2 linked regions of the Homo sapiens genome follow. The protein of the gene in region 1 interacts with the protein of each later gene in a pairwise test. Each region holds a gene or a part of one and is shown in the gene's direction. Other genes may lie near its edges.

Region 1 (7,329 bases):
CAAATGCCAGAGAGCCTTTTACAGTGTTTTCCATATAGCGAGCCTCCTGCCAATATTACTAATTGATTGTCTGACCTGACTTGCTGAAATTCTGGGATCATCTTGGTTGGATTTTGCATTCATTTCCCATTAAAAATACAAAAGCAAAACCAAATTTAAACAAAACAAAACAACCCAGGAAACTTGAGAAGTAGATGTAGATTAAATGAATTTCCTTTAGATAGGTCAACATCAATGCTGTGGGCTTTCCTAGACTCTATGGAAATTCTTGACTAGGAGAATCTAGAATTATTAGATGATAATGTCCAGAAATACCTAAAAGAACTGAAAGCATTTATTCTGAAAGACCTCTTTCTAGCAGAAGGCCAAATAAAATTTTCTATTCCCTTGTTTATTCAGGATTCTTGGGAACTGAATTATTTCCAGTAAATAAATTTTCTAGACAGTGGAAGCTTATTCCTGTAACCACCATAACATTTTGCATTTTAATCATTTTGATATAATTCTGTCTGGTGTATGCTGCTTAGTTTATGGCTTTCATACAGAGTTACATTGAAAACAATTCAGCCAATTTGCTAGGCCTTGAGTCGTCTTCATTGATATGTTGTTGTTTAGTTTTTTTTTTTTAGCTCTGCCTAATAATCTCAGTACCATTTGCCTTCTAAAGATGCAGACAGCTGTACGCTTACATAGGTCTTTTAACTTTTCATTTTTTTTTCTCTTGTTTTTTTTTCTCACTGCCAGGGTGTGTCCAGTTTTACTTTTTATTACAGAAATGTGCATGATTGCTTTCCCCATCCCAAAACACCTTTCTAATTTATTAACTTACAAATTTTATGTCCCAGGAAACCAGAAACCCAAGCCTGTTACTATTTTGTGTAAGGAAGATTAATAGGCATTGAATAAAGTCATGTACTTAGTAATAGGTTTTTTGACCATTCAAAGCCTTTAAAAATTTACTTCCTGGTTGCAGGCTGTTATTTGGTAGGTGTTTAACTCTGGGCAAAATGCCATTTTATTTATAAGCTACAGTGCCTATGATTTTCCATTCTGGCATTGGTGCCTTCCTGCTGCTCCCAAATTAAGAAGAGAAATTAAGTTAAAAAAATCACATGACCTCTGTACAGTTGGTAAAAGTTTTGTAAAATGGAATTTGGATCTTTTAAATAGAAGGAGATGTAAAATACTGTATTCTTAGATATCAGTTTATAAATGTTTTTCCATTTTTATTACAGAGACATATTGATGTCTTTGACTGTTGGAAACCTTGCAGAGCAAGAATTTGTAACCATTGCACGTCACTACCGTGTGCCTGAGGGCACATGTTCAGATATGGATTTCTTAATCGCACTGGCCCACGAAAAGTTCAAGAAAAATATGTTTGAGAATTTCGACACTTTCATTTATTCCTGTGTGTATGAAGATCGAGAAAAGTAAGCTTTTGTTTTATTGATTCTAATCATTTACATTTCTGTGAACCTGAGTAATGAAGGAATTTCTATTTTATCAAAAAGTGCAAAAAGAAAATAGACATGTGTCATCATACTCATACTCTACTATTTAGCACAAACACCTTAAATCATTTTCGGAGAAGTATTTAGGTACAGATATTTCCCAGTGATGGAGAGCTTGTGTGTGTGTGTGTGTGTGTGTGTGTGTGTGTGTGTGTGATATGGCATCTGGCCCTGTCGCCCAGGCTAGAGTGCAGTGGCGCAACCTCGGCTCACTGCAACCTCCACCTCCCAGGTTCAAGAGAGTCTCCTGCCTCAGCCTCCTGAGTAGTTGGGACTACAGGCTCGCACCACCGCACCCAGCTAATTTTTTTTTTTTTTGTATTTTTAGTAGAGACAGGGTTTCACCATGTTGGCCAGGCTAGTCTTGTTGACGGAATAGGGGAGGCCCTGTATCTTTGAAAGAATAGGCTTCTCCCTTGCATGTTCTTTTCATTTGTTTCTAGAAGCTTTCAACTGAAGCATAGTAAATCAAAATGTTAGGAGGGTTAATTCTGAGATGTCGTCTTTTTACATTATTTTAGTACTGATGGGGATTTATAAATGTAACTTTTATAATAAATAGAAAATGGAATTTTCAAGCAAACATTCTGTAGAATTTCTTTGAAATTATTTCTTCTTGAAAATAATGAAGTTCAGTATAAGCTATTTCTTATACATTGATTGTGTGCGTGTTGAGCTTCATTAAGTCATTGTTACATACAACTGGATGCAAACAACTTAATGTGTTTTTTTTGCATTCATCTTACAGACCTTATACAGTGGGGAGAAATATAAATTTACTGATTTCATCTGGAATTAGAAAAATCTTAGTTCTTGCTCTAGCTTCTAATCCGTATTGCTGCACACCACTGCCATCTCTCTTCCTTGTGACTTCTTGCCTTATCCCCAAACTTGAAGTCTGAACCCAAGTGGCCAACTGCATTCCCTGAATATCTGTGTAGGTCCCATAGTTTGTCTTAGAAATAATCATTTTTTTTATTAATCCATAATGCATCCTCTTTGAGTTTTTATAAAGATGGTATTTTTCCTTGACTCTTTAAGCTTTCCCAAGCTTCCTAGAAGATGTGTGGCCTGAGTTTTGCATGGCCCTGGCCCTGCCTTCCACCCTGGTGTTGCCCCCTTCCCCAGAGTGAGAAGTGTGGCCCTCCTTCATTCAAGGAACACTTCTTAGGAACAATGGGGCTGCTTGACCAGATAGCCTGAGGTTCTTCCAGATCCATCAAGCTTTGATTCTAGATATAAACATTCTCATTGCAAAGAAAAGAGCCAACTTTCTTTCCTGTTGGTTCTAATTTTGCCCGATGCCTGGAAAAGTGTTGGCTGAATGAGAACATTGGACAAGAATGTCTTTGCCCCCATAAGACTGGAGAAAATGACTTTTGGGCTGCTCTAGAGAAAACTGCTAGCATCTGAAAAAATTGAAGTGAATATTGAGGCCCCAGCTGGGGCTTCCAGGTGATAAGGTTTGGGTCCAAGGAAAAGAACAGAAAAACACCCTCAAGTCATATCATACTTGTGTTGGAGGCTCTAGATGCCTGTCAAATTAAGAGATGTTTTCAAATATCAGAACCATTTTTGACTAGTGGTCAAGAATGCAGATCAATTACTTAGAGCAACACTTGTGGCTGTAGCCTTAATAGGCTGTACTGTCACCAACCAAGAATCTGCATCTTGAAGGAAAAGCCTTTGTAAGGATGGAGTCTGGTGGCCTCTGAAATAGAAAAAGTTGATGAAATGAAATGTGACTGTTCTTCCTTATTGTGAATTCCAATACCAATTTTCATACTTCCATGTGTACATTCTCAGGAAACATCACAAATGTATTTTCTTTCCTATAGTATGTAATTATTACTAAAGGTATACAAGGTATATAAAAGCTCATTTACGTTGTTTTAATGCAGAAAAAATGTATTACCCACCAAAGACATTAAAAGGCTGTGCAAATCCTCCAGATTACCTTTGAGTGATGATCTTCTAGAATCCTTATTGTCAAGGTAAGTTAGAGTTCCACTCTTGATAGGGATTGTCCTGCATAGTTTTATTTGGGGGACCATTCCTGGTTTTACATCTCCCTTTAATTACCCTTGATTTACCCTTAACTGTTTTGATTATATTATTGGTGACCTGCCTCCATTTAAGTGTTACAGAAGGAAAAGTTTGTCTTGATTTTGAATGTTAGAGAGCCTATTACAAATTATTATTTTATCTTTTTAACATGAATACACACTTATAGATCCACAGATTCCTGGGACAAAATGAAATACACAACTTTGTTGGTTAGGAGGACATTAGATGTAAAATTCAGGGCAGGTTTTTCAAAGCAGCAGTTCCTGATAGCTATAGACATGCAGTAAGAGAACCTAGGGTTATTAGCATGGGGCTCTGTCCTGATAGAGCACCAGATGTAAAACATAGAGATTATGATGCTATAAAATGAGAGCATGGTGAACTGCTTTCTAAAACACATCAGTTCTCCTGTTGAACCTGACTTTTGATTTCCTGGCATGTCCCTCTCAGCCACCTAGACTCTGGCCATCTCTTATGCTTCCTATAGCATCACTCACTCTAGCTCCTCCTCTGACTTATATATCTTGATAATTCTGACATTTTCAGCTGTGTTCTAGGCATTGTGATCATTGTTTTGGATATATTATCTCATTTACTTTTTGAGAACAGCTTGGTGAGGTCGAAACTGTTATCCTTCTTATCTCATACGTAAGGATGCTGAGGTTTAGAGAGATGAGGTATTTTGCCCAAAGTCACATAGTGTAGAAGAAGAAGAGCTCTGATTTGAATCCTGAACTTTTCAAATGCACATCCTCTGCTTCTAATCATTTTGAGTTACTGTCTACAAATAGCCAGTAGATTAGGATGTCTTGACAGTTCTACCTCCTCCTTACTGCTTGCTTCTACTCTCTCCTCTCCATTTCCACTATCATCATTCTTGTTCTGACCCACATTGCTTCTTAAATACTGCGGTGCCACCACATTGGTCTTTCATCCACCAGTGTCTAAATGTTTAAATCCATCTTTACATATAGCAGCTAAGTACCTTCTAAGAGCAAAAATGTATGTCATCTTATTGCACTTTTACTCACAAACCTTCTGTGGTGTCTCTTTGCTCTCTAAGGAAGGACCAGCTCTTTAACTTTGAATTAAGCTCCTTCTCCATAGTGGGGCTTAGGGTTCGCAGCTGGAGCATTGTTCTCAAATAGGGTCTGAAGTAGGGAGTCCTTGTTTGAGACAAAAGGAGAAACCAAAGGAACAGATAAAGCCAAATTCTATGTCAGGGAACTAGGGTCCAAGGTATCAGGAGGGAAACCCAGAAGAGGGCAAATCTAGTTGGATGTGTATGTGCATTGAATCAACCTGGAATAATTTTCTAGATTATCAGTTCTATTTGTTTTGTTTTGATTTTGTTTTTGTTTAACTCTATTTGCTTTTATTTGCTAGCAGCCGTGTGAGGGATCCTGCCGTGAAGGAACTGAGATGAAGTAGGCAGGCCTTGGACTCAGAGTTCTTCACAGATATCATCCCCCACTCCCAAAACTCCCCTTCCTGTTCCCAGTAGTCCAGCCACATGGGCCGTTTAGCATATTACACATATACCTCCTGCCTTCCCCCTCCCCCCCCCTTTTTTTTTTGGCCTTTTCCCTTGCTATTTCATCAGTAGGCAATAGCTCCCAATGGTTTTCACTTGCTGAAAGCTTGCTCTTCCTTCAAGACCCATTTCAAGTGGCACCATATCCATGAAGCTCTGTTGCATTCGTTTGGCTGATAATCAGAGTGATTATCTCCTGCTCAGAATTCTCACAGTGCTATTTATGTGTCTCTTTATCCCTTACCTTGGAATGAAGAGTTGTGACTTGAACTTCGATTCATTCAGATGCAGACACTGCTTCTGTGTGATTTACCACCTATAAATAACCAATGGGTTGTCACATCCTGACAATTTTACCCCCCTCCTCCACTCCCATCTCTTAAATTCTTTGAGTCCACTTATTAGCTGTGTGATCTTGTGCAAGGGTTTTGACCTGCCTGAACCTCAGATTCCTTATCTCTCGAATGACGTAACAGTACCTATTTCCTAGTGGTTCAGAGGATTAATTGAGATAACATACATAAAGTACCCAGCACAGTACCTGGTGCAAAGAATTGATTGAGGACTAGGAGAGAAATTTAAGTCAGGGACCATAGACCACACACTCAGACTTAGAAATGAACTGGAAGAAACCTGTGTCTTTCTATGTAGAGGAAGCCATGTTTTTCAACAATTGGATCTGAATGCCTTTCACACATTAAGCTGTCTTCTAGTCAGGAAGCTGTGGATGTTTATTAGATTATCTTTTGATGGTCTTAAGGATGAGTTGTCCTGGAAAGTCCAGTAATGTGGGAGCCTGGCCTCTGGAGGACCTACATGTTTCTTATCCAGTGCTGAGGCCACCAAGTCATCATCCTCTCATTCTCTCAGCAGACTGTTTTGTCTTTGCCTTTACGATTTGACATTAAATGCAAAAAGATTGTTTCAGAACTTGCTTCGAAGTCATCTCAGTCTCTGAACACATCTGTCTCCAAGCCCAGCTTAGCTTTGAGGAGGTCATCCCGCTCAGCTGCTAAGCAGACCATGTTCAGTCTAACTTTGCCTCTAATTGTGCAGTGACCCTTCTCCACACTCAGGGGAAACTTCAGACTAATCAGATTAGAAAATGTCTCATTCCCATTCCCCTCTCCCTCCAATATGCCCTGCCATGATTTGGGTCACATGCTTAGTGTTTTGCATCATCTCTGCAGATTCCTTTCAAAGACTGCCCTAATTCCTAATGGGCCCATCAGCCTGCAGCTTACATTTATATTCTGCATTCTTATTGTTCCCCACAGACTCCACAGGGCTTTACAGAGCCCTGACCAGAGTCTCTTTCTGCACAGCCCTCCTTATGGCACGCTAAGCCAGAGCCCCCTCTGACGTCTACAGTCTCCCGTGGGAGGCAGGCATGGAGCTTGTTGATTTTGTTCAATGCATGCTCTTGCCCAGGAATAGTTTTACCTGCCTTGGAATGGAGCTGGGCAGCTGCTGAGCAGCCGTGTAACCCTGCTGTGTAAATTCAGATCAGGAGATGAAAAACAATATGGCTAAAGGGTTGGATGCTTTCTTTCACCCAGTAATTGTTACCCATGTATTTCTCCTAACCCTATATTTTGGTACCAGGATTTTCCTTCTACTCCATTCCCATTTTTCTTATAATTCAGCTTGATCTTTTCCTTATTATGTTAACATAACTCAAACTGGAATCAGGACTTCAAAACCTTTTTGTACCTGGTTACCTCAGCCCCTGTCAGTTTGTGCTGTGGGAGCTGGTATAAGGTCACCTTACTTACCAAGCAAATTCATTTCATTAATGCACAGAGCATCAGACTTAAATGTTCTATATAGTGGTAGCGATTATCCATTAATAATAGGAGTGATACTTTGTATTGATGTAGTGCTAAGGGCCTTAGAATATTTTGTAAATTTTTGAGCATATTAAAAGGTACATTTTAATTGGCAGTAGGCATTATTCCTCATTTCATAAGTATAAACTCTGAGAGTCTCTCACTGAAAGACTGTGCTCCAGGCCAAGATGAGCCTCTAATGGAAGTAGAACTACAACTGCCTAAGATACTCTAAACCTTTGCCTCTATCTGAGCTCCTGAGGGTAGGGACTAGATCTCGTTCATTTTTGCAGCCTCAAAGACTTGTCCTGTGCTAACGCACTGGACATGGGGTAGAAAAACATGGGCTCGGTGTCCACCAGAGCTGCTCCTGCCTCTGCAGGTC
Region 2 (7,329 bases), on another chromosome or scaffold:
TATTTTGTATTGAGAAATACACAACACGATGTCGGCCAACAAACTATGTGTCAGGGCCGACTGGAGCGTCACCCGTGGTCAGCATGGCAGGGCCGGCCAAAGCCACAGAGCGGGGAACTTTTCCAGGCATCACGGGAACCAGGCATCTCAGACCGCAGAGCTCAGCACCCCTGGTCCCCTGCCTTCATCAGACCCCAAGTGGTGCCACAGTCTGGGAGGGACATTGGCAAGCTAGAGAGGAGTCAGGGGACGCTTGGAGTCCCTAGGTGGGAAAGATGTCAGAGACGCAGGAGCTGAGTGGCAAGGCAGGGAGGAGTGGCGCCCAGGCTGGCCGAGTCGCACACTGACCATACTCGGAGGCTTTCCAGGGCAGCAGGTCCGAGGACCTCGCTCCGTGTTCCTTGAGCTCCTTTGCGCCCCCTGCCTTTATCCCACACGTGTCCCGAGCGCCTTGTGCCAGGCCCAGGGACAGAACCAGGCAGGCAGCAAGGACCTGCCCCACACTCCACACAATGCCCCACTGACAAGGAGAGGCCACCCCCAGAGCACGGGGAAGAAGAGAGAGGCAGAGAGAGGCAGTCCCGCAGGCTGAGTGGTGCCCTGGGCCTGGGTGGGCCTGACTGCAGGGCAGGGGTGGGAGGGGTACGCTTTAGCAGTGAGTTTTCTGATGAGTTGAGCTGGAAATGCTGTGTCTGCTTCATGGGGCAGAGTTCTACTGAGTGGGAGGTTCTTTCTGAATTCTCTCCAACTTACAGAAGGCTATAATTTATTAAATATAGTTATTGACTTTCCTTCTTAAATATTTAGAAATGAATCCTGCCCTTCCAAAGGATTGGCAAATCTTAGCTGGGATACAGAGGCATGAGTGTTTAGCATTTTCATTTCAAATTTCAAGACCGTTTATGTATAAACATTTTTAGAGACTAGAATTACTGCTCAGAACGAATTTTGCCCTTTGTCTCCAGGCTGCTTAATCCCCAATTTCTCTTACTCTTTCTACTTCATACATCGATTTCTTTTATTACCTGTCTTCTTCAGCCTGCCAACTTCAGTACTTATTTAGATGATTAGAAGTTTTAACAGTCCTCTGTATGGCTGTGGTCATAGCTGAGGTCTACCAGTAATAAGCCTTATAATGCAACCTAGAAATTACTTCCTGCCCTGAGGTTAACACTGGTTGCATCTTGTTGATTGTGGTCCTAGATACATGTTTTTATTTAAAATGAGGCACTTATGTACATGGTAGTTAATATTGGAACAGTGCCTTGTTTGGGTGGGTCTGCATCATTCCAGTTCTGTGTTAATTTTTAGAAATCACGATACGTAAATGAAGCTACTGGAAATTAATAGAACATGTAGAAGGAGTTACAGGAAATACCAAGAGGTGCCATTGTTCATGTTCCACATCAGATGTTCATTAGAGTGGGCACGGGCAGCCTTTGCATGTTGGATCACACCCAGGCGCCCTTTCTGGGTTTCAGTATCTCTAGAGTTGGACGGGTCTGTGAGAACACCTGTGCTTCATGGCCAGGGGCTGGCTCTCCGTTCTCACGTGGTGCAGAGTGTAGTGAGCTTGCCCGTCAGAGGGGGTGTCTCGAGTGGATGAGGATGTGGGGGGAGCAGGGGCCTCCCAGCCTGGCTCTCAGCACTGCCTTTTCTGTTCACCCTGGGGTCCCTAGAAACACTACTGTACCTTGAAGGCCCCCTGGACCCAGGGAAGCCCAGTGTGCCGGGCACCTCCTCCTCTACAGTGCCAGGGAGGCCCAGAGTGCCGGCACCTCCTCCTCTACAGGCCAGGGAAGCCCAGTGTGCCGGCACCTCCTCTACAGGGAGGAGGCAGGGCTCAGAGAGTGAGAGGAAGTCGCCCAGGTGCGTAAGGGGACAGCTCCTCTGTGGCCGCTGCTGCTGTTATTTACACGCGTGCCTGGATGCTCTGACCTCAGGCCCGCGGACTTTCCCTCTGAGCACATGCTGAGATGCGGTCCGGGGGCGCCAGCCTCAGAATGCCTCCCGCAGGGCTCGGCCCCGAGGCAGCAGATGCCAGAACGCCCTGCGATTTCTCAGGTGGACCAGTCGGCATCTCCAAGGAACAAATTCTCAGAAGCCTCCTTTAGTTCCAGAAATGGGCTTAAAAAAAACCTTGCTTACAAAGGAAATGAAAACTTTGCAAACATTAGAACGTCTCCTTATTTTGTTCCCAAATGATAACACAAGCATTTCCTCTACAGCATAACTTACTGATAATTCTTTAACTTTTGACAAAAAAAAAATTGCCTAGGAAAAATGTTTTCCTCAGTAGCCCTTTAATCATTCCTTACACAATGTAATATGTGAGCAAATCTAAAGGGAGTTGCAGGGTTTCCTCTGGGGCGAGGTGCGCCGTGAGTTTGCTCCTAAGTGAGAAGGCCGGGCTTTCTGTTCTGTAGGAACAGCCTGAGTGTAAGTGTTTGTCAGGAGAAGCGTTTCTTCCTATCCCCAATGGCCAGTCATATGTCTTTGGGGAAATGTCTCTTCAGATCCTTGGCCCACTTTTATACTGGCTGCTTCAGGTTTTGCTGGTGAGTTGCTGGAGTTCCCGCATGTTCTGGATACTGCTCCCTTGTCGGATGAATGGCTTGCACATGTTTCCCCTTCCCACAGGTCGTCTCTTCACTCTGGTGATTCTCTTCCTTTGCTGTGCAGAAGCTTTTTAGTTGAGCAGAGTCCCAGTTGCCTGTTTTCGTTTTTGTTGCCTGTGCTTTTGAGGTCTTAGCCATGGATCTTTCACAATAGCCAAGAGGTCGAATCAACCTCAGTGTCCTTCAGTGGATGAATAGACAGAGAAAATGTGGTGCTGTACACAGTGGAATACCATGCAGCCATCAAAAAGGATAGAACCCTGACATTTGCAGCAACATAGATGGAACTAGAGGCCCTCATGTTAAGTGAACTAAGCCAGGCACAGAAAGACAAACATGGCATTTTCTCATTCATCTGGGGGAGCTAAAAACGTTGCTGTCATGGAGGTAGAGAGTATAATGAAATCTGTTATCTATTCATTATTAACGTTAGCTTCTGGCAAGGGGATTTCTATCTGCCAAACCCCACTAACTAGCATGATTACAACAACATTTTATTCCTTCTCTTTGTTTGCCCATTCATTCAGCAGACATTCCTTGAGTAGCTACTGTGTAGGGGATATAGTGGTGATAAACTATTGTCCTTTTTAGCAAAACACGTTCATTCTACAAGCAAAAAGATGTTAAATATCACAGTAGTTCAAGTCCTTGGAGACTGTTGCTGCTGACTCTTCCTGTGTGGCCTTCTAATCTTTACTCCTGGCTTGTGTTTGCTTTATCCAAGCCCATTCTTTAAAAGGTACATGATCTATAACCTGTTTTTCTAACTTAATGTATCATAAACAAGTGTCCAAGTAATCAGCTAGATCGTTCCCAACCCCCAGAGCATCCCGGTGTGCAATGCCCCTCCGTTCTGTTAACACCAAGGTGTCGGGGAAGCCGCATAGCTCTGCCATGCCTGCTGGGTGCTCGGCCCTGCAGCGGAGGCTTCATGGGCATCAGGCCATCTCCTTATTTCTTAACGTTACATCCCAAGAGTGGAGCTCCAGCATCAAAGGTTAGACAGATTTTGAAGGCCTTTGACATAGATTGCCAAATTGTCCTGCAGAAAGGGTGCCACTAACTGATTTGTGATTCACCCAACAGTGTTCGCCGTTCCTCTAGGCCAAGATGGTATTACCATGTTTCAAAAGTGTTTGCCAATTTGTTGGGTTTCAGAATACCTTTTTTGATGACCATGATGTGTTTTCCTGAGCGCCTTCCCCTTCCTGAGCTCTGCCGTCACTGGTCCTCACCGCGTGCTTTTCTCACTGTTAGTTGTTTGATTTGCAAGCTCTCTGTGCTGACCCTCGTCTGCCTCATACATGGCCAGTATTGTCATCATTGCCCACCTTTCGTAGAGGCAGTTGTTTTATGATTTTCTCTTTATTTTTAATTTTTGTGGGTACATAATGTATATATTTGTGGGGTACATGAGATGTTTTGATACAGGCATGCAATTTGTAATAATCACGTCATGCGAAGTGTGGGATGTCCATCCTCTCCGGTGCTTATCCTTTGTGTAACAAACAATCCAATCATACCCTTATAGTTATTTTTAAATGTACAGTTAAATGTTATTTCCTTTTTGTTTTCTGCCTTTGATGTTATGTCTGGAAAGACATTGCCAACTACAAAAAAGCATTGTAAACTATATTATCCTAGAAACTGCAAAACGGCATTGTAAACTATATTAGCCTAGATTTCCTTCTAACTGTTCTGTGGTAAATAATCAAACTGAATAGAAATCAACGAGATGATGCTGGACAAGGTGACAGAAGAAGAACTCGTATCGGGAGGAGGAAACTGGAGTGGTGAATTGTGCTTTCATGTTGTGGCACGTGTTGAAATCTCATGCTCTCATTGCTGTCTCATTTGTTACATGTACGTTTACGCTCATATATCAGAATTCAGTGCAGGTGTTTTCATCGTTGTTTTTCTTGGTGTATATTGCTGATGTTTGGCCGTGACAGACTGTGATGGTCATCGTGTGTTCTGTCCCCAGACGAGTTTGGCGCACAGACTTGTGGCACGAGAAGGCTCGGCCGCTCCACTTCCCCTCTACACATCGCCATCCTTGCCCAACATCACGCTGGGCCTGCCTGCCACCGGCCCCTCTGCGGTAAGTCAGCCCCCGTGGGTCCGTGTGGTGTGGGGTGGTGGTGATGGGTCCTTCCACCCGAGCATCCTGGCTGTGCTTTCCAGGGCACGGCGGGCCAGCAGGACGCCGAGAGACTCACCCTTCCCGCCCTCCAGCAGAGGCTCTCCCTTTTCCCCGGCACCCACCTCACTCCCTACCTGAGCACCTCGCCCTTGGAGCGGGACGGAGGGGCAGCGCACAGCCCTCTTCTGCAGCACATGGTCTTACTGGAGCAGCCGCCGGCACAAGCACCCCTCGTCACAGGTGAGCACAAATGGGCCTGGGTGCAGCCAGGCTCTGAGGCTGCCCACGCTCTGGATGGTGCCCCGCCTTCGCCTGCCTTTGGAGGAGACAGGAATGCACGCCTGTCCCACCCCCACAGTTCCCAAACACACATCCCCATCACGTGATGTAGCCACCGTGACTGCAGTGAAAATCCATGCCTCACTCCCAGAGTCAGGTAGATGGAGTGGAAACAGAAGTCACTTCCCCTTTCTCACCTTTTGGGAGAGGCCACCGGCTCTTGCGATTTGGGTTTCTGTCTGGACCAAGCTGAGCCAGCGCTGGAAGCCCAGAACCGACTCTTGTGGTCAGTTTGTGTTAGCGAACTTTTACAAATGTGCACTGTCTGGGGGAGTGGTTACATTTAGAAAAATACAATTTAGAGGAAAATGGGAACGTCCTTATGAAATTACATAGCAACAGCAATGTGAAAGTGTCACTTCAGAAATGAGGGCACACCGGCCGGACACGGTGACTGACACCTGTAATCCCAGCAGTTTGGGAGGCCGAGGCAGGCGGATCACGTGAGGTCAGGAGTTCAAGACCAGCCTGACTAACATGGTGAAACCCCGTCTCTACTAAAAATACAAAAATTAGCTGGGCGTGGTGGCGCACACCTGTAATCCCAGCTACTTGGGAGGCTGAGGCAGGAGAATTGCTTGAAATTGGAAGGCAGAGGTTATAGTGACCCGAGATGGTGGCACTGCACTCCAGCCTGGGCAACAGAGCGAGACTCCGTCTCAAAAATAAATAAATGAGGGAGCAGCTACCTACCCCCTTGCCGTGCGGGTCATCGTTGTACATCTTCATAGCTTTGTGTTTGGCTTCCTGGAAACCTGTTGTTGCCAATTGAAAGCTGAAATACCCTCAGAGCTGCACCTGTGAAACTCTGGCAGTGAACTTGGTGAAAACTCAGGGGCTTGGCGTGTTGTAGGAGGCTGCGCTGCAGGATGCGTGGGGCTAGGGGCTGGCTTGGGTGGGCTTGGGCCTCTGGCTTGACTAGTCTGGTGGATTTTGGTGTTTTCTTGTTTTGTGCTGCCCATGTGTCTCTGTTTAGACAGAGAGGATTCCTTCTTATTCCTTCTTTGCCCAGAAGCCAAATGGCGCAATCTTTGTTTTGTGCCTGAGCCCCTTTCTGTTTGTTTCTCCAGAAGCTTGAATTCGTGTCCCTGCCTGTCCAGAGCAGAGGAGCCCGTGGTGTAACGAGGGAGGGGGCAGCCCTCACAGTGCCTCTCTGAGCTGCGGCCACAGTGGCAGGCACGCGGATCTCTCTGGAGGAATGTATCTGAGGTTGCGTCTGAGTCTCTTGGATGCTCTAGATCAGCTGGCACGAGTGTGGGTAGTGAAGGACACCTGAGTTTCTCGCCTGTCTTTAAAAACGTAAAATGTGCCTGATCTTCAGGATTCCTGGGATTCACTTCGTCAGAGATGTTTGTCACTTATCTTCTTTCCTTCTCTAAATCAGTTTATTCTGCACGATTAAATAGCATGCGTAATCTTGTGTATCAGGTTTTTGGAAAACAGCCTTTTTGATAGAACCTGGATATCGAGTGTGCATGGGTCTCACCTCTCTGAGAAACGCACTGAACTCGGCGTTGCTTCTTCCCTGTGTGCGCTCATCCCTCTTTTCCTCCCAGGTGCAGCTTGCTCGTTGGCATGGGGACCTGCCCACCGTGCCCTGCCCAGGCTCTGTGCCACCAGGGGGCCCATGCATGGTTGCCCAGCTTGCTCTGGCCTTGCTTTACGCCTGTGCCCAGCAAGCCCCTCCAGTCCTATGCCGCCACCTCCAAAACCCTGCAAGCCCCTTCTCTCCTGCACAGCCTCCCCAGGTTGCCAGCAGCTCATCCTGCAAACCCCCTGGCAGGGAGCCTCGGAGCCAGTGTCACGTGTGCAGCGTAGTGCAGCCACACAGCCGCCTCTGTCCCAGCTTTCTCCTGCTCCATGACCCTGGGAAGCCGCTTATGCTCTGTGTGCCTTGTTTTCCCATCTAGGAAGTGGGGATACTAAGCGGTCCGCCCCCGTGAGCCTGATGAGGGTTAAGTGGGCTGTGCACTCATGTGCCCCTGCAGGTGTTGGCATCATTGTTGTAGTCATTGCCTTGTTCTTAACCTGCCACCTCCCATGCTCTCTCACTCCCCCAGCCAGCCCCTGTCCGTCCTCAGTGTCTCAGGGGCCCTCCCCCAGCCCCGCCATGAGCAGGGCCCTCATTTGGAACCCGCTGGGATTGCCCCATCTTCTTGTGGGAAGAAGCCTCCTGTGCAGGTTCCTCCCCTCCGGTCTGTCCTCCTGTATCCACCGGACTCTCCTTGA

What was found. The genes of interacting proteins can lie anywhere in the genome.
Region 2: the proteins of EFHC2 (region 1) and HDAC4 interact in binary tests that used the Homo sapiens proteins (3 or more experiments, as listed by UniProt).

What each region holds. Positions count from the first base shown.
Region 1 is NC_000023.11:44,172,471-44,179,799, reverse strand, and holds part of EFHC2 (EF-hand domain-containing family member C2), read left to right. Parts: intron 1-1,235; coding exon 1,236-1,433; intron 1,434-1,591; coding exon of another isoform or gene 1,592-1,593; intron 1,594-3,415; coding exon 3,416-3,508; intron 3,509-7,329. UniProt on the Homo sapiens protein: Microtubule inner protein (MIP) part of the dynein-decorated doublet microtubules (DMTs) in cilia axoneme, which is required for motile cilia beating.
Region 2 is NC_000002.12:239,131,917-239,139,245, reverse strand, and holds part of HDAC4 (histone deacetylase 4), read left to right. Parts: intron 1-4,602; coding exon 4,603-4,719; intron 4,720-4,802; coding exon 4,803-5,001; intron 5,002-5,007; exon of another isoform or gene 5,008-7,329. UniProt on the Homo sapiens protein: Responsible for the deacetylation of lysine residues on the N-terminal part of the core histones (H2A, H2B, H3 and H4).